7 linked regions of the Homo sapiens genome follow. The protein of the gene in region 5 purifies or fractionates together with the protein of the main gene of each other region. This does not show direct contact. Each region holds a gene or a part of one and is shown on either strand. Other genes may lie near its edges. The genes, in order: SETD1A, C15orf39, KSR1, ERF, PRMT2, KRABD3 and SETD5.

Evidence for each region.
Region 1: the proteins of PRMT2 (region 5) and SETD1A purify together in Homo sapiens (affinity purification with mass spectrometry; 3 studies listed by BioGRID and IntAct, with this or other methods). This does not show direct contact.
Region 2: the proteins of PRMT2 (region 5) and C15orf39 purify together in Homo sapiens (affinity purification with mass spectrometry; 3 studies listed by BioGRID and IntAct, with this or other methods). This does not show direct contact.
Region 3: the proteins of PRMT2 (region 5) and KSR1 purify together in Homo sapiens (affinity purification with mass spectrometry; 3 studies listed by BioGRID and IntAct, with this or other methods). This does not show direct contact.
Region 4: the proteins of PRMT2 (region 5) and ERF purify together in Homo sapiens (affinity purification with mass spectrometry; 3 studies listed by BioGRID and IntAct, with this or other methods). This does not show direct contact.
Region 6: the proteins of PRMT2 (region 5) and KRABD3 purify together in Homo sapiens (affinity purification with mass spectrometry; 3 studies listed by BioGRID and IntAct, with this or other methods). This does not show direct contact.
Region 7: the proteins of PRMT2 (region 5) and SETD5 purify together in Homo sapiens (affinity purification with mass spectrometry; 3 studies listed by BioGRID and IntAct, with this or other methods). This does not show direct contact.

What each region holds. Positions count from the first base shown.
Region 1 is NC_000016.10:30,967,754-30,971,253, reverse strand, and holds part of SETD1A (histone-lysine N-methyltransferase SETD1A), read right to left. Parts: intron 1,950-3,500; coding exon 1,792-1,949; intron 1,653-1,791; coding exon 1,565-1,652; intron 1-1,564. UniProt on the Homo sapiens protein: Histone methyltransferase that catalyzes methyl group transfer from S-adenosyl-L-methionine to the epsilon-amino group of 'Lys-4' of histone H3 (H3K4) via a non-processive mechanism.
Region 2 is NC_000015.10:75,208,382-75,211,881, reverse strand, and holds part of C15orf39 (uncharacterized protein C15orf39), read right to left. Parts: coding exon 3,058-3,500; intron 1,134-3,057; coding exon 766-1,133; 3' UTR 1-765.
Region 3 is NC_000017.11:27,599,448-27,602,947, reverse strand, and holds part of KSR1 (kinase suppressor of Ras 1), read right to left. Parts: intron 2,363-3,500; coding exon of another isoform or gene 2,205-2,362; exon of another isoform or gene 1,725-2,204; intron 1,719-1,724; coding exon of another isoform or gene 1,612-1,718; exon of another isoform or gene 1,595-1,611; intron 1,589-1,594; coding exon 1,547-1,588; intron 1,056-1,546; coding exon of another isoform or gene 990-1,055; intron 1-989.
Region 4 is NC_000019.10:42,249,599-42,252,128, forward strand, and holds part of ERF (ETS domain-containing transcription factor ERF), read right to left. Parts: intron 1,843-2,530; exon of another isoform or gene 1,791-1,842; intron 1,567-1,790; exon of another isoform or gene 1,348-1,566; intron 968-1,347; coding exon 733-967; intron 345-732; coding exon 229-344; intron 141-228; coding exon 1-140. UniProt on the Homo sapiens protein: Potent transcriptional repressor that binds to the H1 element of the Ets2 promoter. May regulate other genes involved in cellular proliferation.
Region 5 is NC_000021.9:46,652,674-46,656,173, reverse strand, and holds part of PRMT2 (protein arginine N-methyltransferase 2), read right to left. Parts: exon of another isoform or gene 3,330-3,500; coding exon of another isoform or gene 3,120-3,329; exon of another isoform or gene 1,077-3,119; intron 1-1,076. UniProt on the Homo sapiens protein: Arginine methyltransferase that methylates the guanidino nitrogens of arginyl residues in proteins such as STAT3, FBL, histone H4. Acts as a coactivator (with NCOA2) of the androgen receptor (AR)-mediated transactivation.
Region 6 is NC_000007.14:149,728,451-149,731,950, forward strand, and holds part of KRABD3 (protein KRBA1), read left to right. Parts: intron 1-72; coding exon 73-225; intron 226-737; coding exon 738-920; intron 921-1,037; coding exon of another isoform or gene 1,038-1,078; exon of another isoform or gene 1,079-1,301; intron 1,302-1,696; coding exon 1,697-1,891; intron 1,892-1,977; coding exon 1,978-2,118; exon of another isoform or gene 2,119-2,263; intron 2,264-3,221; coding exon 3,222-3,326; intron 3,327-3,500.
Region 7 is NC_000003.12:9,400,615-9,404,114, reverse strand, and holds part of SETD5 (histone-lysine N-methyltransferase SETD5), read right to left. Parts: intron 1-3,500.

The sequences.
Region 1 (3,500 bases), on a different chromosome or scaffold from region 5:
CAAGGAGCTGCATAAGCAAACCATTTTCACTGTGAGATAAACATCAGCATGCGGGGAGGATGGCAAAGGAAGCCCCAGACTCTGTCTGAAGAGGCCCGAAAAGGAAAGCATCCCAGGGGACAAGCTGAACTCAAGGACAAGGAGTCCACCACACAGACATGGGGACTGCACAGGGATGTCGGAAGCAAGAGGAAGTGGAGGCTTGGAGACTGGGAAGCAGGCTGCTCTGGCACTCAAACCTTCCTAAAGTGGGTCTCAGGACCCAGTCTGGACGAAGGATTGGGTGAAAAAGGATTCTGGGCTGAAAAGGTTAAAAAACACGACAGGCTCTATATTCTGAGACTGCTCATGTACGGGAAGGACTCGAAAAAACTGAAGAATTTCACAGTTTTTGAGGAACAGAATTGGATAAGTTAGACTAGAAGGTGGTGGCAGCTGGGGAGCGGACTGGAGGAGGGCGAGATGGAGCTGAACAGAGCAGGGCCAGGAGATAAACGGCCCATGGTGTTGGCCTGGGGGGACACCCTGTGGAGAACAAGTTGCCAGGAAGGACCTTATGGAGGGAAGTCACAGGGTCAGGAGTGCATTTTAGGAAAGAGATTCTATAAGCAGTTTGGAAAATGGACTGGAACAGAGGGAGAAGGACAGAAAGAGAGACAGGGAAATCAGTCAAGACTGCTGCAAGAGGCTGCGTGCAGTGGCTCACAGGTGAAAGCCTAGCACTTTGGGAGGCCGAGGTGGGTGGATCACTTGAGGTCATGAGTTTGGGACCAGCCTGGCCAACATGGTAAAACCCCATCTCTGCTAAAAATACAAAAATTAGCCAGGTGTGGTGGCTCACACCTGTAATCCCAGCGCTTTGGGAGGCTGAGGCAGGAAAATCGCTGGAACCAGGGAGGCGGAGGTTGCAGTGAGCCAAGATCACATCACTGCACTCCAGCCTGGGTGACAAAGCGAGACTCTGTCTCAAAAAAAAAAAAAAAAAATCTGGGTGTGGTGGCTCACGCCTGTAATCCCAGCACTTCCAGAGGCTGAGGTGGGTGGATCGCCTGAGCTCAGGAGTTCAAGACCAGTCTGGCCAACATAGTGAAACCCTGTCTCTACTAAAAATACAAAAAATTAGCTGGGGGTGGTGGTGGGTGCCTGTAATCCCAGCTACAACGGAGGCTGAGGCAGGAGAATCTCTTGAACTCAGGAGGCGGAGGTTGCAGTGAGCCGAGATTGCGCCATTGCACTCCAGCCTGGGCGACAAGAGCGAAACTCTCTCAAAACAACAACAACAACAACAACAAAAAACAAAACAAAAAAAGCGTTCTGCCAGGCTGTCCTTTTGGACAGCTATGTCTCAGCAGAAGAGGGAGCAGGAGGGAGCATTTTGAGCACTGAGCTTATTGCTGTCAAGGGGCCAAGGGTTCCTAAGAATGTGGCCCAAACAGATGCCCTTGCAGAAGGCAAAGGTGACCCACAAGCCCAGCAGGAAGGTCATGTGGGCTCAGAAAAGGGCTAGCCAGGCAGCCGAACCCCTCCTCCGAGCCCAAAGTCGATTTCACTGTCTTGTGCTCACCATCCGACACCTCTGTCTCCTTCTTTGTGGTATCCACAGCTTCCTCTCGATCTTCATCTTCCTCATCTTCCTCGTCATCCTCCTCATCCTTAAGAAAAAAGACAAATGAGGACTAACAGGAAGGGGACAACTGGTCCTACACCAGGCACAGCTGCCTGGGCTCCAACCACAAAGATGCTGGCTATGGGAAGTAGGCTTCGGCCAGGAGCCGGCGCCCGGGCCCTCACCTTCTCCGAGGAGGACTCCTGGGATGCCTCCTCCCCTTCGCTGTCCAGAGCAAAGGACTTGCGGTGCTTGCCCTGGGTCTTGCCTCGCTCTTCGTCCCGCTTCGGGGGCTTGGTCCCCGGACGTCCTGGCTCTCCAGCCTCCTTCTCTTGTTCAGGGTCTAGGCCAGCAGAGTGGTAGTTGGGGAAATTTACCATCAACCACAAGATACTTGCCCTGTGCAAGGGGCTTTACATATACTATTACCAATCTTCCTGATGGTCTTCATTTCACAGATGAGAATTTGGAAGCTCACCAGAGGAACTCAAACACCTCAGTTACCTCATGTTTCATAGTTTTGTATTTGTTTTTGTTTTTGGGACGGGGTCTTGCTCTGTCACTCAGGCTGGGGTGCAGTGGCATGACCACAGCTCACTGCAGCCTCAACCTGCTGGGCTCAAGCGATCCTCCTGCCTCGGTCTCCTGAGTAACTGGGACTATACAGGGGCATGCAATCATACCCAGCTAATTTTTAAAAATTTTTGTAGAGACAGGGTCTACCTATGTTGCTCAGGCTGGTATTGAACTCCTGGGTTCAAGTGATCCTCCTGCCTCAGCCTCCTGGAGTGCTGGGATTATAGGCGTGAGCCATCGTGCCTGGCATATATATATATATTTTTTTTTTTGAGACGGAGTCTCGCTTTGTCGCCAGGCTGGAGTGCAGTGGCACAATCTCAGCTCACAGCAGCCTCTGCCTCCCGGGTTCAAGCAATTCTCCTGCCTCAGTCTCCCAAGTAGCTGGGACTATAGGCACCCGCCACCACGCCTGGCTAATTTTTCTATTGTTAGTAGAGACGGGGTTTCACCATGTTGGCCAGGATGGTCTCGATCTCTTGACCTTGTGATCCACCCGCCTCGGCCTCCCAAAGTGCTGGGATTACAGGTGAGCTCCACCCTGCCTGGCCTTAATATATACAGATACGCATATGTGTGTGTATATATATATGTGTGTGTGTATATATTTGTGTGTATATACATATGTGTGTGTACATATATATATATATATGTATTTTTTTTTTTTTTGAGACACAGTCTCGTGCTATCACCCAGGCTGAAGTGCAGTGGCATAATCTTGGCTCACTGTAACCTCCACCTCCTGGGTTCAAGTGATTCTCGTGCCTCTGCCTCCCAAGTAGCTGGGATTACAGGTGAACACCACCATGCCTGGCTGTTTTGTATTTTTAGTAGAGACAGGGTTGTGCCATGTTGGCCTGGCTGGTCTTGAACTTCTGACCTCAGGTGATCCTCCTGCCTCAGCCTCTGGAAGTGCTGGGATTACAGTCAGGAGCCACTGCGCCCAGCCCACACAGTTTTAAATATGTCCTGTCCATTTGATCTTGTATCATTTTCTGGTCGGGTGGAAGAGGGAGCTGACTTGTTATGCCTGGCCCAAGAAAAGAGTATGAAGGCCAGTGGGTCTCCAGGGAAGCAGATCTGACTCAATGGGCAAGTTTCCAGGCCATGGTAGCTATCAAGCAAGGGCTCAAACTCAGGCAAACTAGGAGGAAGGTGGTAGGAGGGCATTAGCATCAGGTGGGAAACTTGGGGAGATGCCTCGTTTAACTCGGAATTCTGTGATTCCAGACACTGAATTTCATGGATGGAAAAACCCAAAATACAGAAAATGTAAATCAGCAGACCAGAGGAAGACCTGCAACTACAATCCGGGGAT
Region 2 (3,500 bases), on a different chromosome or scaffold from region 5:
ATGCCAGGGGTGGGGGAGGCAGTTCAGGGAAGCACTGATGTCAATTCAGGACAGGCCTGGGGCCTCCTGGGGTGGCGGCAGCAGCAGGCCCAGAACAAGGACGCCAGCTCCAGGCTGCATCCCTGCACCAGTAGCGGGGATTGGGAGCAGGGAGTGCAGGCTCCCTCAGGGAGCTCCAGGCTGGAGTAGGGCCAACCCAACCCCAAATGCTGGGGGGTGACTCCTGAAAGTGTGAGTCACATCCACTGCCTAAGGTACCACTCTACGATAGCCAAGTCCTAGGACACACGAAGACTTTCTATAGGAAGGTTCTCTGCCTCCAATTCTAGGCCCTGTCCCAGAGAGGAAGCAGAGACCAAATGGTGACAGGGTATGTATCAGGCAGCATCCCCACAACAACCCTGTGAGGTAGGTTGCGTTGTCCCATTTTACACATGGGGAATGAGGGCTCAGCAGAGGTGAAGTTTCTTGCCCAGGTCCTGCAGCAAGAACACGAGCCGGGATTCAAGCCCAGGTCTGTCGGGCTCCAAAGCCCATGTGTGTTCTCTAGGCAAGAAATAGGGAGTAGTCCTATCCAATAAAGACCCTCACGTTAAAAGCTCAGGGGCTCTTCAGCCCACCCTGAATGGGCCACAGGGTCAGAGATGGAACCCCTCCAGGGGAGCAGCCACAGCCCCAGCATCCACTCGTGGCCCCGGGGCAGCTGGGCAGGCAGAAGGGAAGGGTGGAGAGTGACTGCTATACACACAGCACTGGCAACCAGTGCTACAGGTGATGGCTCTGGCTGTCCAGCAGCTGTGGGCAGGGTGAGGGCTGGTCTGGTCTTGAGGACTTGTGGCCCCAGGTGGGCAGAGCCAGGCCATTGAGCCAGGCGGTCTCCAGCAGACTGCGGAAGCGGGCCTTCAGTGTGGGGCCAGGTGGGCTGGCACTGGTAGCAGGGGTAGGGGAGGCACCACAGGACTCTTCCCCAGCAGCTGCCTCTGCTTTCTCCGGGCCAGGGGTTGGTGGCTTCCTGCCTGGCTTCCTGACCTTGGGGGCCGGTGACTTCTGAGCCAGGGCTAGGCTCTCTGGCTCACCTCTGGCCACAGTGGGCTCTGAGGAGGACACAGCTCCAGCCTCAGTGTCAAAGTCACCTGGAAAACGAACACATAGTCAGCCTGCAGACCCCATACCCTCAGGTCCCACCTCCTGGCTTCCAAAGCCATCCAAACAGTGCTTCTGCTCTGCCCCAAGTCAGGCTGGCATCACAACTCTTCCCCACACATGCCCACTGGCCAGACCATCCAAGCAAAAAAGATGTGCTTCTCCCCAGGTGACACCAGAACTCTATCTGATGAGGGCACCACTCAGGAGAGGCTGTTTGGGTACAAGGATGAGAGCAAAGGGGCTCAGCAGGTCAGGAACCATTGGCCTGGTCCAATACCCATTGCTCAGATGGAAAACTGAGGCATGGGAACAGAGGACCCTGCCATATATAAGACAGCCATCATGTTTCTGCCATACCAGCCCCAGAGACCAAGCCCAAGCCCGAGGCCGAGCCCAGGTAGGGACTGTCCTAAGAGCCATGCTGGGGGAGCACAGGAACCCACCCACAACAAAGGAAGGCAGGGATAACTGTCTAGGGGCACACAGAGAAAAACGGCCCCCAAGGTGGGAGGGAGTGAGGACAGGGGCAACAAAATTCAGCCAGAAGCCAGAAGCCTGGTCTCAATCACTTGCTTCCCAGGCCCCCCGATTGTTGCAAGCTCCAGTCAGAGCACCTCGGACTGTGTGGAGTGCCCAGACTCCACTGCTGATCAGGCAGCCCAGGAGAAACAGACCTGACCCTCTCTGGGCCCCAGACAGCCCAACTGTATGGGGAGAGGACTGAGCTGGGCAGCCCAGCCCTGAGTGATGTGGGACCCTCACTCAGTAACAGATCGCCTGAGTCTGGATTTCCTTTGCATCCCATTAAGGCATCTGCTCCAATTTTGTAAGTACTCAGGGATCAGGGATTCTGGTCAGCCAGCCCCTAAGCTCATCTGCACCTCACTGCCACAGGCCCTTCCCCATCCCAACCAGGTAAGGGCCCGGGGCAAGGCTGCCACTACGGGGATGGAACTAGGAACAGTTTCTACAGGGAAGAGGCTGGGCAGTGGAAATGGGAGAGGGTGGAATTGGGGGCAGCAGGGAGAGAAAAACTAGAGGGGGCCTCAGGCTGCAATGCCAGGTGTACTGACGCAGGAGGGGCAATAACAGAATCCACTTGGTCCCATCACCAGATCCCTAGCTGAAGAAGTGTGATCATACACGCCACACAACACTTCGGCAGTTGTGTGGTCCTCCAGGACATTAAAAGAAAACAAGCTGGAGAACAGCAGGCACATCATTTAGTAGAGGAAAAGCAAACCACAAAACAATGCGACTTATGCGCACACTTCTGTGTATGTAAGGGCCGGGGAGGACTGCAAAACTACACGTTCAAAAAGGCAGCTGTGGCCCTCACCAGGTCTAGAGCATGAGGAGCTTTGTGAAAGGGGGTGCCCTTCACTGACATGGAAAAGAACTGGTTGTGGGAAGTGAGCTGAGGGGAAGGCTCGGGAGTGTGATTTGGGATGAGTTCAGTGTGGGAGAGAGACCCAGGGGCTGAGGCCCAGCATGCAGTGGGTTATTTAGGGCTAGAGCTCACAAAGGGGATGCTAGGCTGGAGATCAGGGAAATTATCTCAGCTAGAAAACAGGGCCTAACCAGAGTGCCGGAAACACTGCACCAAAGATGGAGAAGGCACAGGCAGAGGAGGAGGGAATCCAAGAAGGTGCAGCACCAGGGGAGGCCGAGGAGTTTCCATGGGGACAGAGCAGCTGGCATGTTCAGAAGCCTACAAAAGAGGCTATGAAGGTGCTCACTGATTGTCTGGAGGGTCAAGGGGTGGGGGTACCTAGAGCTCATCCTAAAGCCCCCTACCCGGGCAGGAGTCCTTGGAATCACTCAGCCCCAGCTGTGACGCACTCACACAGCACACACACCTGTCACTTGCTCACACAGCTCCGGTGGCCACTGGGGCTGCCCCATGCTCACCCAGCTGGCGGCGTACACAGTCGCGCCACTGCAGGCCGAGAAGGTCGGGGTAAATGTCCGGCAGCTGGCGCAGCGCCAGTAACTTCAGCATGCGTGAGGTGCAGCCTGGCAGGGCGAGCTCCCGCAGTGCCCGCTCCTCCGACAGCGTGGTGGGCCGCAGCTCCACACGATGCTCCTGCAGCACATGGTCCACAGAAGCGGGTGGCAGCCGAGGGAAGAGCCGCTCCTTCACCAGGTGAATGGGCACGAAGATGGCGCCAGCTCGCACCACATGGGGGAAGGGGCACCGGTGGGTGCGATCGAAGCGCTGCAGCTGAGACAGCAGCTTGGCCAGCAGCCCCTGCACACCCTGGCAGTCCTGCCACGCAGCCTGGCCCCAGGGCCCAGCCGTCTCTAGCCACTCGCGAAGCTTCTCTGGAGGAGAGTGGGCGACGGAGCCAGAA
Region 3 (3,500 bases), on a different chromosome or scaffold from region 5:
CTCGACCTTCTTCTAGGGCTTTCTTCTGCCTTTGAAGGTCATCTGAACCACAGGCTGTCAACATCTCTGGGACCTCACAGACTTGGAGAATCTGATAGAGGCCGTGGGCCTTCTTATCAGGGAAATGCACACATGTGCCCAACATCCTGTGCACAATTTCTGGGGGATCAGAACCTTAGAAGCCTCTACCGGTAAGGCCTCCCCCGGACACAGTGTGTCTGCAGACTACCAGCAGGGGCCTGGCATTTCCACCCATCCCACACTGCTCAAATGTTCCAAAGGAGGCAAACACACACCTAAAGCATGAGGGAAGTAGTAAGAGTTGGGGTGTGGTTTCTCCCCAAACCCCAGATGGGAAGGCAAAATGCCTCTCTGAATCCTCATGCTTTTGCTTAAAAGTTAAGAGTGTATCATGCATTCTGCTCCAAAATGTGTCCACGTTTGCTTTAATAAAAATGTATTTCCTTGCCCTCCCTGTGACATATCTTCGGGGGAAAATGGACCCTTCTGGGAGAAGAGCCATATCTTCCCAATGTTTTGGGGTAATTCCCTGCGTGCATCCTAGAGCTAGTAACCAGGGGAACCACAACAAAAAACCGGTGTGAAACTGCAGAGGCTGCTCAGCTGTTCAGAGGGAGCCTCCGGGAGGCGGGTTCTCAGGGCCCTGACTGCTGCCCTGCACACACCTGAGCAACGCCATATGGATGGTCCTCTAAGGACTCACAGATGCTCCAAGTCAACCCCCTAATGGAGCTGGCTTAGGGAATAGAAAAGCCTGGAGTAACCAAAATACTGTGACTTCAAGACAGTCCTGTTCAATCCAAAAAAAAAACAGCTACAGTCTTTGTTTTAAACACCATTATGCTCATCACCTTCAGTTACAGTAAAAAGCACTGATCTCAAGCACTTTAGGGGCAGGAATGAAAAGGTTGGTACATAGTAAGTGTAGAAAACAACTTTTGCAGAAGGGACTCAATGTATTGACTTACTGAAAGCGTTTTCCTTTAAACTTTCTGCAATAAGGAGGCATTTCCAGCAATGGCCAGCAGATGGCACTGTGTGGTAAGGCACAGAAGGGTGAAGCCCACTAAGAGAAGCCCGCAGACCTTCCCAAATGGGTTTCTACTTCTCTAAGACATTGTGCATAAGATATCCTCCCATCATTGTGCAAGGGAGGATACGGTGACATATGCTCATAAGGCATTAGCAAAAAGTCCTCTCCCCATTCTATAAACCCAGATTCTAGTCCTTCTGCCATCTCCTAGCAGTGTGACCTTGAAAAGGTTGCCTGCAGTCTCTGTGCCAAGAGGCTGGATGGGATGGATTCCAGGGTCCCTCCCAGCAAGAACTTCTCACGTAAGAGGCCTACCACCAGGGCACTTGCCCTGCCCTCTTCCCATCCTCTATGGGCAGTCAGCTCTCAGAACAGGTGGAGGGAGACTCAAGTATCTCCAAAGGTACCCAGAGAGAGGGCGCCCTGCCCAGGTGGGCAGGACAGAAGGGGTCACAGCAAAGGGCAGTTAATGGAACCATGCAAAGGACTCACCTGGAAAGATAAACTGCTGTCTATGATGAATGAAGTAGGCAGCTTTAAACAGAAGAGGAGGTGAGTCACACACACAGAACGGCCAACGCAGGAGGGAGGAGCGGAATTGCAGGTACCGGCTTGGGAGGCAGGGACTTGTTACTGGGCTGGGACAGCCCTACCCCAGATGGACCTGGCAAGGACAGGCCAAACCATGCAGGAAGGAGGAAAAGAGCTGGGAGAAAATGGGCCCTGGCAGGAGTCTGCAGGACTAAAGGGGCTTGCACTGGAGGATTGGGCATTCCAAGACCCCGTCTCCGGTCACCAGCACTCTGTGAAATGCATGTGAGCCCAGAAGGGCAAAATACAATGGGAGAGAAACAGTGATTCTGAAAAGTTTAACAGTGTTATGTACGGAAGAATGGCCTCCTCCCCCTGAGCCCCACCTGTACCTCCAGAGTGTCTCAACCTTACCACTCCCTACCCACATTTTTTTCTCTCTCTCTCATAGGTGACTGAAAAGGATACACTGGGGTTCTGGAAGCTGACAGCATGTTCCAACCTCAATTCTGCCACATAACTAGGCTCTGGGACCTTAGGGAGTTGGCTAACCTCTCCAGCTGTCTCACTGTCAAATGGGGGTGTAAATACAGTCATGTGCCACAGAATGTTGTTTTGGTCAACAAGGGACCACATACATGACGGTGGCCCTAATTATAATGGAGTGGGAAAATTCCTCTTGCCTAGTGATGTGGTAGCTGTGGTAACAGGGCAGCACCATGCATTCCTCACGTGTCTGTGGTGACGCTGGCGGGAAATAATCCACGGAACTACAAGCTGTATAAAAGGATGGCACGCACGATTATGCACGGTAGCATCTTACTTGATAATGAGAATAAACAACTGTATTACTGGTTTATGTATTTACTATATTGTACTTTTAATCATTTTTAAAATTTTTTTTATTTATATATTTATTTTTTGAGACAGAGTCCTGCTCTGTTGTCCAGGCTGGAATGCAATGGCACAATCTCAGCTCACTGCAACCTCTGCTTCCTGGGTTCAAGCGATTCTCCTGCCTCAGCCTCCCAAATAGCTGGGATTACAGGCACCCAGCCCACCACCATGCCTGGCTAATTTTTGTATTTTTAGTAGAGACGGGGTTTCACTATGTTGGCCAGGCTGGTCTTGAACTCCTGATCTCAGGTGATCCGCCCACCTTGGCCTCCCAAAGTGCTGGGATTACAGGCGTGAGCCACCACATCCAGTCTTTTAATCATGATTTTAGAGTATACTTGTTCTACTTACCAAAAAAAAAAAAAAAAAAAAAAAGTTATCTGTAAACTAGCCTCAGGCAGGTCCTTCAGGAGGTATCCAGAAGGTGGCACTGTTATCACAGGAGATGCCAGCTCCATGTATGTCACTGCCCCGAAGACCTTCCGGTGGGACAAGATGTGGAGGTGGAAGACAGTGATATTGATGATCCTGAGGCTGCACAGGCCTAGGCTAGCGTGTGTGTCTTAGTTAACAAAAAAGTTTAAAAAGTAAAAGAAAAAATAAGGATTTTAAAAATAGAAAAAAGCTTATAAAAATTCAAAAAAAAAGTTTTTGTACAGCTATACAATATGTTTGTTTTGGGCTAAGTGTTATTACAAAAGAGTCCAAGTTAAAAAAAATGTTTAAAGATTATAATGTAAAAAAGTTGTAAGCTAAGGTTAATTTATTATTGAGGAGAATATTTTAAAATAAATTTAGTATAGCCTAAGTGTTTAGTGTTTATAAAGTCTACAATAGTGTACAGGAATTCTTCCAGAGCAGCTTCCAGTCCCCTACAAATAAAGAACAATTGACTGATTGACTGATTTAGAGACAGAGTCTTGCTCTGTCACCCAGGCTGGAGTGCAGTGGTGCAATCTCAGCTCACTGCAACCTCCACATCCTGGGTTCAAGCGATTCTCATGCCTCAGCCTCCTGA
Region 4 (2,530 bases), on a different chromosome or scaffold from region 5:
GGAAGATGAAGATGAAGAGCAGGCTGGTGGTGAGCGGGGGTCCTCGGTGGGGGACAGCACCTCGGAGGGCGTTGAGGGAGGGAAGCGGAAGTGGCTACCACCCGACGGCACTGGCGGGGCACTCTGGGGCACTGCACCCCCTGGCAGAAGGGAGACAGTGTCAAGGCCCCTGGCCTAGCCTGAAGGGGCATGTAGACCCTCTCCACACCAACCATCCCTGGTACTCACCAGCCAACCCCACATCAATGAATGGGTAATTGACCAGCACCAGTTTGTTGAAATTGAACTTGTAGGTGAACCGTTTCCCCTTGGTCTTGTGCAGAATGCGCTTGTTATAGTAATAGCTGTGGGTACAGAAATGCCATTGGGAAGGTCAGGTACGTGGGACCCAGGTCTAGACTCCACACCTTAACACGCACTTAGGTGTGGTTCCCAAAGGCCAACTGAGGAACGTAGGCCACAAAAGACAAATCAAGTGCCCAGAGGGTGGGTACCAGCTCTCTCCTCACATCTAAGGCAGGACTAGAGGATCCACTGGTGACTGTAATCTCTCCTCAGGATACGTCTGTGTTACCAAGGGGCTCAGGGAAGGGCTGGGAGTGGCCCAAGGTCACACAGCTAGGATTTGGCAAAGCCAGGGGTCAGACCCAATGCTTGTTCCCACAGGCAAGGGGCTGTGCAACCCCGGGGGGGCACTCCACATGTGCTCAGGGGTCCCCAGCCCGTCCTCACCGCAGGGCCCGGCTCAGCTTGTCGTAATTCATCTGGGGCTTGCACTTGCGAACGCCCCACAGCCGGGCCACCTCATCAGGGTCTTTGATGACGAATTCCCCGTAGTCCCCCTGCCAGGCAATGACGCCCTGGTACTCCTCCTTCCGCAGCAGCTCCAGGATAAAGTGCCACAGCTGGATCTGCCTTGAGCCAGGGGACGACTCTGGCTTGTAGGCCCAATCCGGGAAGGCAAACCCTGGGGACGGGAGGCAGGGAGTGGCCTGGGGTCAGGCTGCCAAGTCCAGGGCTCTGGGTCCCATCCCAGGGTCCACCTCTGCCCTGCCTTCAACATGGGGAAATCTGTCTCACCTCAGCCAAGTCAAGATCTGATTTAAGAGAAGACAGTGCGTGTCTGTCTGTCTGCATGTGAGGGGCTAGACAGGAGCTGGGGGGGAGGGGAAGCTGGAGCCCGCTCCAGCGACACCGGGAGAAACAGGAAACCGTCGGCGGTGGGTCCCGGGGCCAGTGCCAGGGGGCCAGGCACCAAGCCAGGCTGGCGGGCAGGGCTGCCAGTGGGGGAGGGGCAGGAAGGGGCACACGTGGCCAGCCGGGTTGGGGTACAGCCCCCCAGCTTACCCCCACTCCCATTCAGAGCCAGTTGCACCACCCCAGCTCCTCGGATGTCCTCCTTAGAAACATGCACTGTCTCCTCCGAAGACCCAACAGAGCCCCTACTCCCAACCCCAAGACCTGAGAGGAAGATTTTTTTTTTTTTTCTTAAAAGGACCAGGAGGGGTGGGGTGACTCGGTTGCCGATGAGGTCAGCGCTTGCACACACAGAGGCTTCTGTCTTCCCTGGAGAGTGAAACCCAGACTGTCTGAGAGGCCCCCCAAGCCCTGGACCCTCTGAGCTACACTGCCCTCCCCAGACCCAGGCATCCAGGCCCCACCTGGCTGGAGGGCCCAGCCCAGGCCTGGAGCTTGAGCAGGCACCCTGGAGCTGTCACCCTCTTCCCACTTCTGCCTTCTCATCTTCAGCTCCTTCCCTGCCCACCTGCCTGCCCACCCCCAGCATTAACCTTGGGTAGAGGTTGGCGGTGGGCTGGCTGGTCTCTGGAGGGGGTGGGCAGCCTGGGGTGGGGGGTGGGGGGTGGGGGGACTGCGGTTGTTGTCATTTCCCAACAACAGGGGCCATCAATAATTCAGCACCAGGCAGCCGGTAATGGAGGGGTGGGAGGAGGGAAAGGGGAGGAAGGGAAGGAGTGGGGAGGCAGAGCAGGGTCCCTGGTGCCACTAGAGAGAGAAGGCCAAGGTGGCCAGCTAAAGATGGGCGGCTCCCAAATCCAGTCAGGCTGCAGGGGTCAATCCGCCTCCCTTGGCCCCAGCTCAAACAGGTACCAACAAGGCCTCCAGGCAACACATCCACCCTCAAAGACTCCACCCAAGTCTGGAATCCAACAAGGGATCCTTCCCCTTGGGAATCCAGGGAATCAGTAGTTCCTGCTCCCACAGGGACCACCCCCTCCAAATCCAGAGCTCACTGTAGGCCCCCAACTCCTGCCCAGACTGGGCTGCAGTACCACATAGCCCCCGGAGTCCCTGCCCCATTCAGATATATCCCAGCCTTCCACCAGCCCCTCAGGGTGCCAGGGATATGACCTCCAGCTGTTCACAGACCAGCACCAACAGCCCCTGTTCCATTTAAAAGTGACAGCCTTTGACAACCCCTTCCAGAGACCCCAGAGCACCATCGCTCTCTTGGGAATCTAGGTGTTCAACCCATTATCCTCACCCTTCTAGAGAATCCAGATCACAAGGT
Region 5 (3,500 bases):
TGCCAGGCTCTTTTTCACAACCAGCTCTTGTTGGGACCTGAAAGAGCTAGAACTCACTTATCTACCCACGAGGAAGGGCATTCATCTATTCATGAGGGATCCACACCCATGACCCAAACACCTCCCACTAGGCCCCACCTCCCAACACCACCACACTGAGGATCAAATTTCAACATGAGATTTGGTGGGGACAAACCATAGCACTAGTTCCTTTACATTCCATATACATTTCATAATGAGCTTATCTATAAGAACAAATCCTGCTTGGATTCTAATTGGAATTTTATTAAGTCTACAGATCAATTTAAAAAGAACATACGTCTTTACTAGGTTGAGCCTTCTTATCTCTCCATTTATTTAGGTTTTCTGGGGTTTCTTTCATTATCATCTCATCATTTTCAGCATCCAGATCACATTTTGTTAGATTTCTAAGCCTTTCATATTTTTGAAGCTACTGTGATATTCTTTAATTTCTAATTGTACATTGCTAAGATATAAAAATGACTTCTGTATGATGACCTTGCACTCTGTGATCTTGTTAAACTCACTTACTAGTTTTAGGAAATTTTCTCATAGACTCCTTAGGATTTTCTGTAGGTTTTTTTGTAGATGTCCTATGTCATGTTAAATTTCCTTCCCTTTCTAGTTTGCTGAGAATTTTATCATGAACTGATGTTGAATTTTGTCAATTTTTTTCTGTATTGATATAATCATGATTTTTCTTCTTCAGACTGTTAATATGGTAGATTACACTGATTGATTTTCAAATATTGAACCAGCCTTGCATTCCAAGGATAGTTTCTTTTTTTGTTATGGTGTATTATTATTCCTTTTATATCCTGCTGGTTTAAATTTGCTAATGTTTTCTTGAGGATTTTTACATTTATGTTCATGAGGGTTATTGGTCTGTAGGTTTCATATTTTGTGTTAACATTGGTTTTGGTATTAGGGCAATGCTTACCTCATATAATGAGTGAGGAAGTGTTCCCTCTTCTTTTCTGAAAGTTGTTTAGAACTGGAGTTTTTTCTTCATTAAATGTGTTGATAGAATTCACCAGTGAAATCATTTAGGGTAGAGATTTACCTTTCAGAAGGTTTTTAAACTATTAATTCAATATCTTTACTAGTTATTGGACCATTCAGGTTATCTATTTCATGTTAGATGAACTGTGGTAATTTGCAGTTTTCAAAAGAATTGGTCCATTTCATGGACCTTCTTTGCTTCTCACTCTATGTATGTACACTCTATGTACATACATAGAGGGAGAAGAAAGAAAATGATAACTCAAGACTGTTTCAGGAATACAGTTGTTTCTTGGTGTCTATGGGGAACTTGTTCCAGGACCCCCGTGGATATTCAAATCCTTGGATGCTAAAGTCCCCCATATAAAATAACGTGGTTTTTACATACAGGCTACACACATCCTCCGACAGACTTTAAATCATCTCTAGATTACTTCTACCTAATACAATGTCAGTGTTATGTAAGTAGCTGCTATACTGTATTGGTGTGTTATTTGTATTGATGTTTATTGTTGTATTGTTATTTTTATTTTCTGATATTTTCAATACATGTAGGTTGTATCTACAGATGTGGAGCCCACAGATACTTGACCGTACTTCAAATTCTTGTCTTCTTCACCAGTCGATTGCTACTATGTCTTTGTTCCAGAGTCCTCAAATAGTTTCTCCCTGTCTACTCTCCAGGATTTATAGCTGCATTCAGTGGGAGACATGAAAGGAGTATGCCTTCTCCATCTTATCTGGAACTGAAGCTAGGTTACCACTATGTCTAATTTTTAAACACAAAATTGGAATCATACTGTACATACTCTGTACTTTTTTTAAAAACTAGCAACATGTCACCAACTTTTTCCAAAGACTGTTAAAAATCTTTCTAAAACATAATTTTTAATGATCATATGTATTGCTACAATTCTGTTGTTTCCAATTTTCTCCCCATTTTAAACGGTGCTGCCATGAACATTTTTTAACATAAATTTCTGTACAAATTTGATTATTTCCTTAGGATAATTTCATCAAAAAAATTTGGTGCCTGGTCTCTGGGTCCAGCTGCTGGGAAGGAGGACACTGCAGTCTCAGCACCCACCAGCTCCTCCTCCTTCCTCCTCCCCCGAGGTGAATGTGCCCTCAGAAGTGCAAGCTGCTGATTAACTATGCTGCATTTTTTATGACGTGAAAGTTCGGAAATGCTCCACGCCAAAAAAAAAAAAAAACAAGAAAAGAAAAAAGGCTGTCATTTTTTGTCCCAGTGCAGACAAAGTGCATTGTTGTAGAAGGAGGTGAAGAGACCTTGGTTGGAGATGTCTAAGTGTAGCCATAAGCGGTCCTTCAAGCATGTGGTGGCAATGTTTCCTGAAAAAGATGTCTCTGTACTTTGTATGAGGCAAGCTTTAAAACCAAGGAATCCAGAAGAGTTGATGGTTTTGTGTGTGTGCGTGTGGGCACCAGAACTAGCACCTCTGAAAAGTAAAATGATCTACATGAGCTCCAGGGAATGCAACCAAAAAGAAATATCAAGGCATAAAACATGAACATCAAGCAAAGGGGCCAGAAGTCCTCCCTTAGGCCTGTCCCACTGGGAAGCCAGGCGGCCTTGGTTGTGGCCTCTGCAGGGTGCCCTGTGTAGATCGTCCTTCAGTGCCACAAACTGAAAGTGCCCGTGTTTACGCTTATCCTCTTGTTGTGTAAATAAAGCAAATACATTTAGGCCAGAGTCTTGCTGAGGGGGAGCTGTCCCATCATCTACACCACACATTCTATAAATATGTGCAAACAGCCTTAAATACATCCGAAGTCTGAAGTGTTATTGGTATGAAATTAAATTCTTACTGGCCACGTGCCTGTTTTCATGAGCTGACTTATAAAGACTTTCGTTAAGCTCAGGATTTGTGATAATACAGTCAATAAAACAGTACAAGGCTGTGTGAAGAGAATTATTACATCTTTGTTAACCTCAGCAGTTACTTTGTTTCTTTTGCTTAGAAAATTCGTCATAATGTGGTTGTAATTTTGGTCCAAATTCTTTATTCTTCCTTGAGCTAAAGAGAATAACGGAATATAATATGTCCTCATCACATATTGACAGCACGAATACACTAACAACAGTAAGACTGAGTCTGGCAGTCTTTTAATTCTACCAAATGTGCAATGGAGATCCTCAGTGACCTTGCAAAGCGTCCTGAAAGGTCCAGGAGGCAGCCCCTGCACCTGCAGTGCCACTGGCTAGTGGGAGACTGCTGAGTGTGCAACCTGCTTCTCGGAAATCGTGGCGTGGCCTCAGGAGAACAAGCAAGATCCTGTAACAACTAATGATAACGCAAATTAGGGCTCAATTGTCACCTGCTTTGTTAACAAAAATGATTAAATGGTCTGTTGACAATCTAGGACACCTGTGGTATCTTTACTTGCGTCTCCTTCAGAACTTTGCTGCTTCTGGAAAAACAAAAAAATTTTAATGCTCTTTGACTTATTCTGCC
Region 6 (3,500 bases), on a different chromosome or scaffold from region 5:
GACAGGGGGCTTCTGCAGTTTGCAGAGATTGAGCTACAGTCCCCCTCATCTGTGAATGTTTGATCTTCACAGGAAGCCCACCAGGAAGCTCCCCACTGCAGGGTCTGGAGAATTGTCTCAAGGAGATACCTGTGCCTGTGCTGCGGCCTGCCTGGCCCTGCTCCTCAGCAGCAGACAGGGGACCGAGGAGAGCAGAGCCCAGGAACTGGACAGCAGACAAGGAAGGTAATAGTGGCTGCCGGGGCCCTGGGTGTAGACAGGGCTGCTCTGAGGATGCCCTAGGCGCTGCACCTGTGGGCTCAGATCTGCTCCTGAGCCAACATGGTGCTCTGGAAACAGACCTGGGCAGAGCCTTGTTGGAGGCCAGAAAGCCAGATAGTCTGCAGCACACACGTGTAGACCTGCTGGCACCTTAGTGCCACTGTCTGCGGTTCCACCATCCCAGCTGGAGCTGGCTCCTTGTGGCTGGGTGTCCTTGTCCCGGCCGTGCCAGCCCCACGAGCCTTGGTGTCTGGGCACCAGTCTCCAAGCCCAGGGGTCCACGCAGCTGGGTCTGGGAATAGAGATGTTCTGGAGGGTTCAGGCGCTCCCTGGAACATGACAGATGGGTGTTTCCCACACCTGATGCTGGTGTGCCTGAGAGCCCAGCAATGGCAGAAACTGTTCCCTGTCCCTTCTTCTGTGGCAGCACGAGGCCCCGTGGGGCTGACAGGCCTTCTGATTTCTCATTAAAACAGGACTGAGGGCTGAGGCCTGCGAGTCAGCCCGTCTCGGGCAGGGTAGGGGAGAAGCGCCCACCCGGAGCCTCCATCTGGTCAGCCCACAGGTGTTCACCTCCAGCTGCGTCCCCGCCTGCCACCAGCGGGGGTTCAAAGACCCTGGGGCCACCAGGCCAGGAGTGTGGAGGTGGCTCCCAGAGGGTGAGCTGGCACCTGCCCTCGGTACTGACAGCCCCACTTCAGTTAAAGTGTTTGACAAGGAAATAGACTTCCCTCTCTGTCCCTCTGTTTCTTCCCCATCTCTCATCCTTTCCCCAGAGGACAGAAGCTGGTGCCAAACAGAAACTGAGGTTCGCTAAACAAGAAGATAAAGTGTCACAAAGTGCTGACAAGGAGCGGGGTCGGGAAGATCATTGTTTGTGTCCATCCATTGGGTTTCTCCAGTGGAGAAGCTTCTTGAGGGGGCTCCCGCCGTCCACTGCTGCTGCTTGGTTTAACTTCCAGCAGAATTCCTTCCTAGATCTGCTGCAGGGCCTGCTGGGATGCCTTTGCTGAATAAATGCGGTTTTGCTGACCCTCCCATCAGACGAGGATGGGCCCTAACTGAGCCCCACCCTTGGGCTGCTGGCCCCTGTGAGATACTGGGGTGCAGGGATGGCACCTGCCTGGTGGGAGAAGCCGCCTGGCCTGTGAGACCTAGGCCTGGCTAGAACCTGACTGCTAATGGCTTCCAAGGACTGGAGACTTCCAGAAAGTTCCCCAGCAGACTTTCCAAAGCTGCTGGGGTCCTGGCCAGGCTCTGGCTTCACTTTTGTCCTCTTTCTCTGGCAAGAGAGGCAGCCATTTAGGGTCCACTAGAACGCATGCTGATCGTGGGCTGAGCTGAAAAGGGGACCGGTTCTGTGTGCCCAGACACTAAGGCAGAGACCTGGCTCTCTTCAGGCTGATGACAGAGCACTCTCTGGTCCCCTGCCCAGGGTCTGCCCCCAAGCCCTCCCCGCTGCACTGCCTGGAGAGCGCCCTGAGGGGGATCTTGCCTGTAAGGCCCTTGCGCTTCGCCTGCGTGGGAGGCCCCAGCCCCAGCCCCAGCCCCGGCTCCAGCTCGAGCTTCAGCGGCTCTGAAGGAGAAGACCCGAGGCCAGAGCCTGATCTCTGGAAGCCGCTCCCCCAGGGTGAGCCTGTGCGGAGAGGGAGGATAGCGGGATGTGTGCCAGGGCGCCAGTCACCACTCTGATGCCAGCTTTGTTTGTGACGTTAGAGAGGGACCGCCTTCCCAGCTGTAAGCCTCCTGTCCCTCTGTCCCCATGTCCTGGTGGGACCCCTGCTGGCAGCAGTGGCGGCAGCCCTGGTGAAGACCCCAGGAGAACAGAGCCCAGGTACTGCAGCGGCCTCGGTGCAGGTGAGCCTGGGGTCTCCTGAGGGGGCGCCCATGCGTTCCCCAGAGGACCAGGAGTCCAGACTGGATCCTTTGAGTCCTGCCTGTCGCTTTGCCTGGCTCTTGCCAGGGAGTCCTGCACATTGGCCGTGCTTTAGTTCCCTGTAAGGTGAGCTGTGTCCGAGAAGGAGGGCGGGGCTGCTGGGGGTGCTGGTGAGCAGCTGCAGGGAGGTCTGAGCCACTCACTTGATGCCACGTACACGGTGTTTGCGCTTGCTAATATACACGTGTGCATGTAGACAGATGTGGATGTATTTATACAATAATAGCGTATGCTTTTAAAACTTGGCAATCAATAACAAAAGTCTCAAAAGTGAGATTTCCCCAGCTGGGGGTACTTCTTGGAGAGTGTCCCATTAGGAAAGCTAGAATGCTGCCTATTGCCCCAGGCCACCTTGCTTCTCAATCTCACTGTGACCCACTGTTTGCTCCTAGCAGAAAAAGCAGATGGGACAGGAGACAGGTCCCAGTTGCCTGGGAGAAAAGAGAGTTTAGAGAGTACCTGCTGTCCTGGCCCCCTCAGGAGTGCTGGAGGACGAGGACGAGGAGGGAGAAGCAGTGGTAGAAGGAGGGAGAAGCAGGGGAGAAGGAGGAAGAGGCCAGAAATGGTCAGGGGAGGGAGCTCTCCCCAACTCCTGCAGCTGGCTCCATTTACAGGCATTGGCCCTGGTCTGTGTAGACCCAGGCTGCACCACATTCTTCACTCCGCAGTGGGCCTAGTGGAAAATGGCAGAGTGGGCTGGGTGTGGACCACAGGATGCCCCAGCACGCCCTTGGAAGTCTCACTGGGGCAGGACCCGCAGATGAGAGTCCTTTTTCCCAGCTGCCTCCCCAGCCGCCTCCTCCTGCCGGAGCCCCCTGCATACAGGGCAGGAACACCACACACACACGCACCGCGGCGGGCCCTGCCACCAGAATTAGGCTCCCTCATGGGCCAAGTTTCCGTCTTCTATCTCATTTAATCATTGTTTAAAAGTTGAGAGTTTGATATTGTTTTAGGGTATGTCAGAATGGCTCTGGCCAAACGATCGTCTCCCTGCCCCAAGGTCTCTGTGCTCTTTCTATAGGTACAGCTCAGGATCCCTGCCCGGTTTCTCAGCTGGAGAAAAGGCCCAGGGTTAGTGAAGCATCCAGAGGCCTGGAGCTTGGACATGGAAGACCCAGAGTTGCAGGTGAACTGGTGGCTTCCCCCATTCCCTCTGCACGGGCCAGGACCCAGAGCCCCAGCTTGGGGAAAACAGCCTTCCAGGGTCAGTGTTTGAGTGATGGGTAGGAAGTCTCACCTGTAATGCACTTCAGGTTGCATATTTCCTTTCAGTGTTTTATCACAGAAGCAGTTGGGATTT
Region 7 (3,500 bases), on a different chromosome or scaffold from region 5:
CCTCAACCCAAGCAACAAATGTGCTCTTGGAAAACTGTTCAAACCAATTATTTCTAAAAATTAAAGTCTTTTAAAATATATTAAGCATTTTGAAAAACCTTGTCATATATTCCTTCATAAAAGAGAAATCCTATCACAATTCAAATAATTGCCAGCTAATTTGCCTATAAATGAAATTCTTTATTTTTAAAAAAAGAACTGACGCAAAACATTTATTTTAAAAGTAACTAAAAATGTTGTTCAGAACACCGATCCTTTAACATTTTAATGAAAACTTCAATAGGGACCCAAATTTCAAAATATTTCATTATGATTTTGGTTTAAAGGACCAGATAACCAACAGATCTTTTCCAACTCTATGATTCATACTAAGTCTTAATAAACTGGATGCAACTATCCCACTTGTATGCGAGCTGAACACAAATGTATCAAAAGAGGTTGCCTAAACTAAAAGGTGGGGGAGGGAGTAATCTCCAGGAAATATCAGGTTCTCCAGGAACTAAGGATGAGGCTGAAATTAAAAAGTAGCCTTTCTTCAGTTAGCATTTTACATATGGCAACCCAACACATGAAAGCTGTAATGTGCTACCTATCTTAATGAAATAAAATTGTAGACAACTACGAGCAACTATTTCATAAAGGGAAACAAATTATTCTACATGTTCAGGTCCAATCCCAACCCAAATAAACACATTGTATTACAATGTGTTTTTATTCAGATAGAGTATTCTTTTCCATTTCTTAATGAGAATTCAGCTCTAGAACGGGTCTCCTCGGGAGGTGACTTGCACCTAGGAGGGTGCAGAGTGTGGGATTTATTTTATTTTAACCTATACAGAGCTTTATTTATTTTTTTATTTTTCCTTGGCGAGAATGGATCCCTACAAGATATTCTGAAATGTATCAAATTTGGGGTTAATAGTATGTGGTTGGCAAAAATTCAATGCTTGAGTGGGAACTAAAAATGATTTCTTTAATTGTATGCCAAACTGAATAATCTCCCAGGGAAAAGAACCTCCTCCTCTTGCCTTTCCTACCTCCTGCCCCTCCCCCACCAACATTGCCTCCCTGCTGTGCAAAGAGCCCTTTGTCCTGCCCCGCACTTATCTAGCTGTTTGGCCATATTGACAGGCCTACTGGAGGCATAATAAGGGAGTCAGTCTGACATAAGCAGCTGGCAATTTGAAACAAAAATCTTCCTTTTCTACTTAGACCAAATCCTGCTGCAGAGGTCTCTGGCTCCTCCCATGCTTCCATCTATTTCTCAAACAGAGCAGCAAGAAATTCAGCATTTTCCCCTCCATTAGGTAGCACAAATCAAAAACTTGATTCCCCAGACAGAAATCTATTTTGTATACATTCCTATAGCTACCGCTTTTTGTGATTCATAACATAGGCCAAAAGTATACATGTAACTAACATGGCTAAGGCAATGCTTCTCATTACTTCATACTGCCATGAAAGCTGTGGGAATCCTTATACCACAACGAACCCATAAGAACACAGAAGAGAAAGCAGCAGCCCAACCAAAGCAACAGACATGAGCATCAGGCAAAACTGGCCTGATGTAAAAACTTAAGTGTTTTAAAAATACTAAGACATTACTCCAAGAAGCAGAAAATTCCTTTCCCTGTCTTCATATCAAACATACTTAATGTGACCTTACATTAAGTAAGGTATTCCCTCAGGTACTCAGCAAACAAAATCAATATGATGGTATAAACGAATGAGGCACGATGCGATTACAAATTCCTTGCTCAGTGAGGGCACATATAAAGCAGACTGAGCTTACCTTCATTGTTTATTTTATCCCATAGTTCCCTTCGCTAAGTATTAAAGACAGAATGCATTTTGTCCCAGGGTAGGGGAATTCTCTCCAATGTAATGCTTTCTAACAGCACCTCCCCCCAAAGTTACTGGGTATCTTTTACGCAATTCATAATTAAAGATACAATAAAACAGTTTTCCTAAGACTTATTTAACAAAATGTATATAGACAAGTGAAGGAAACTATATTCTCTCCACCTTTCATGAACTTCCCAGAATCCCACCCACAAGATAAATCAATCATTTTGCCACATATTTTGGAATTTTTGGCAGTAAGGAATGGTACCAATCCCTGCCCATCACGGGTACACTACATTACTTTCTAAAGAGTGCCTTTGAAAGAATACTTTAAATTACAAATGACTACCAGTTATATCACTAAATATACGATGCACATTTTGCAAAGTTTGATGCCTCAAACAAAATATACTGGTCAAGAAGTTTCAGTTTTCAACACTTGAAATACAATTTTTATAAATAAAATTCACTGCTAGACCTTCTGACTTCAAATTAAACTGATGAATCACCAGAGTTCAGCCAAAAATTATTTTTAAAATTTTATTTTATTCATGATCCAGTTCCCCTCTGATAAAATGTATCCAATAGTCATTGACTGCTGTTAACTATGGCCTAATTTTTCATAAGTTATTTCAACATGGAGAGGATAAAGCAAAAGTAATTATCTGCAAATCTGTACTTTGCACTTTATTATTTCCCCATTCAAAGGTAAAAATGAAATAGTCATTCTCCCCAGAAAAGCCAGAATAATTTCAGAAAGTCAGTTCCTGGACACAAAACAGTATCAAAAGATATAAAAAAGTTTTCAAGGGTATAACTTAAGTAAATCCTTCTATGAAAAGGGCCTGTATGATCCTCTAAAAAATGATAATATCAAGAGCACAAAAGGTTCCAAACAACAGGAAATTCGAGTGTAAAAGCAATTATTTTATATAGCAACTTAAGCCACAGAGTAAAAAACTACAAACATTTTTATCTTAAACCCTAAGTATGTCAAACAGCCAGTATACATGAAATCATATTTATCTGCTATTGCATCTTATCTATGTGATAGTAATAAGAATTGGAACCTCCTAAAATAGTATCCATTAAAGGTTCTGTTTCATTGGTCTGCTTTTATTACTGGGAAAACAATGTGAGCCACATTTGTGAATGACAAAACTCATTTCCATTCTTTTTGGTTCTCTGCCACAAATGCCAGAGTGATACTACAAATTATAGATGTTTGTGAGATTTAAGTACATTTACACGAAAATGAACAAATCAAAATTCTGAGAGAAAAAAGTATAGGATACACGAGTCTTGGGGAAGAAAAACAGCACACAGGAATATGTCCAGTATTGCATATAATTGGTGGTGGTGGTTCTCCTTCAAGTTTTTCCACGCTCAGACTGTTTTGCTTAATCAGAGATCATCCTAATGTTCAGGAGTTGTGGGGGAGGGGAGATCACCTAAGGGGCTCAGAGGCCATCTTCTCAGTATCCTGAACTAGACTTATTCGATTTCTGCATATTTCTTCTGGTCTGTCCTACATTTCAGATGGATTATGGCCAAAGACATATATTTGTGATGTCAGAAGGCTATATCCAACATGTATATAATGAATCAATCTTATAAGTCAAACTCCAAAGAAAATATCTAATCTGGAGAAGTTT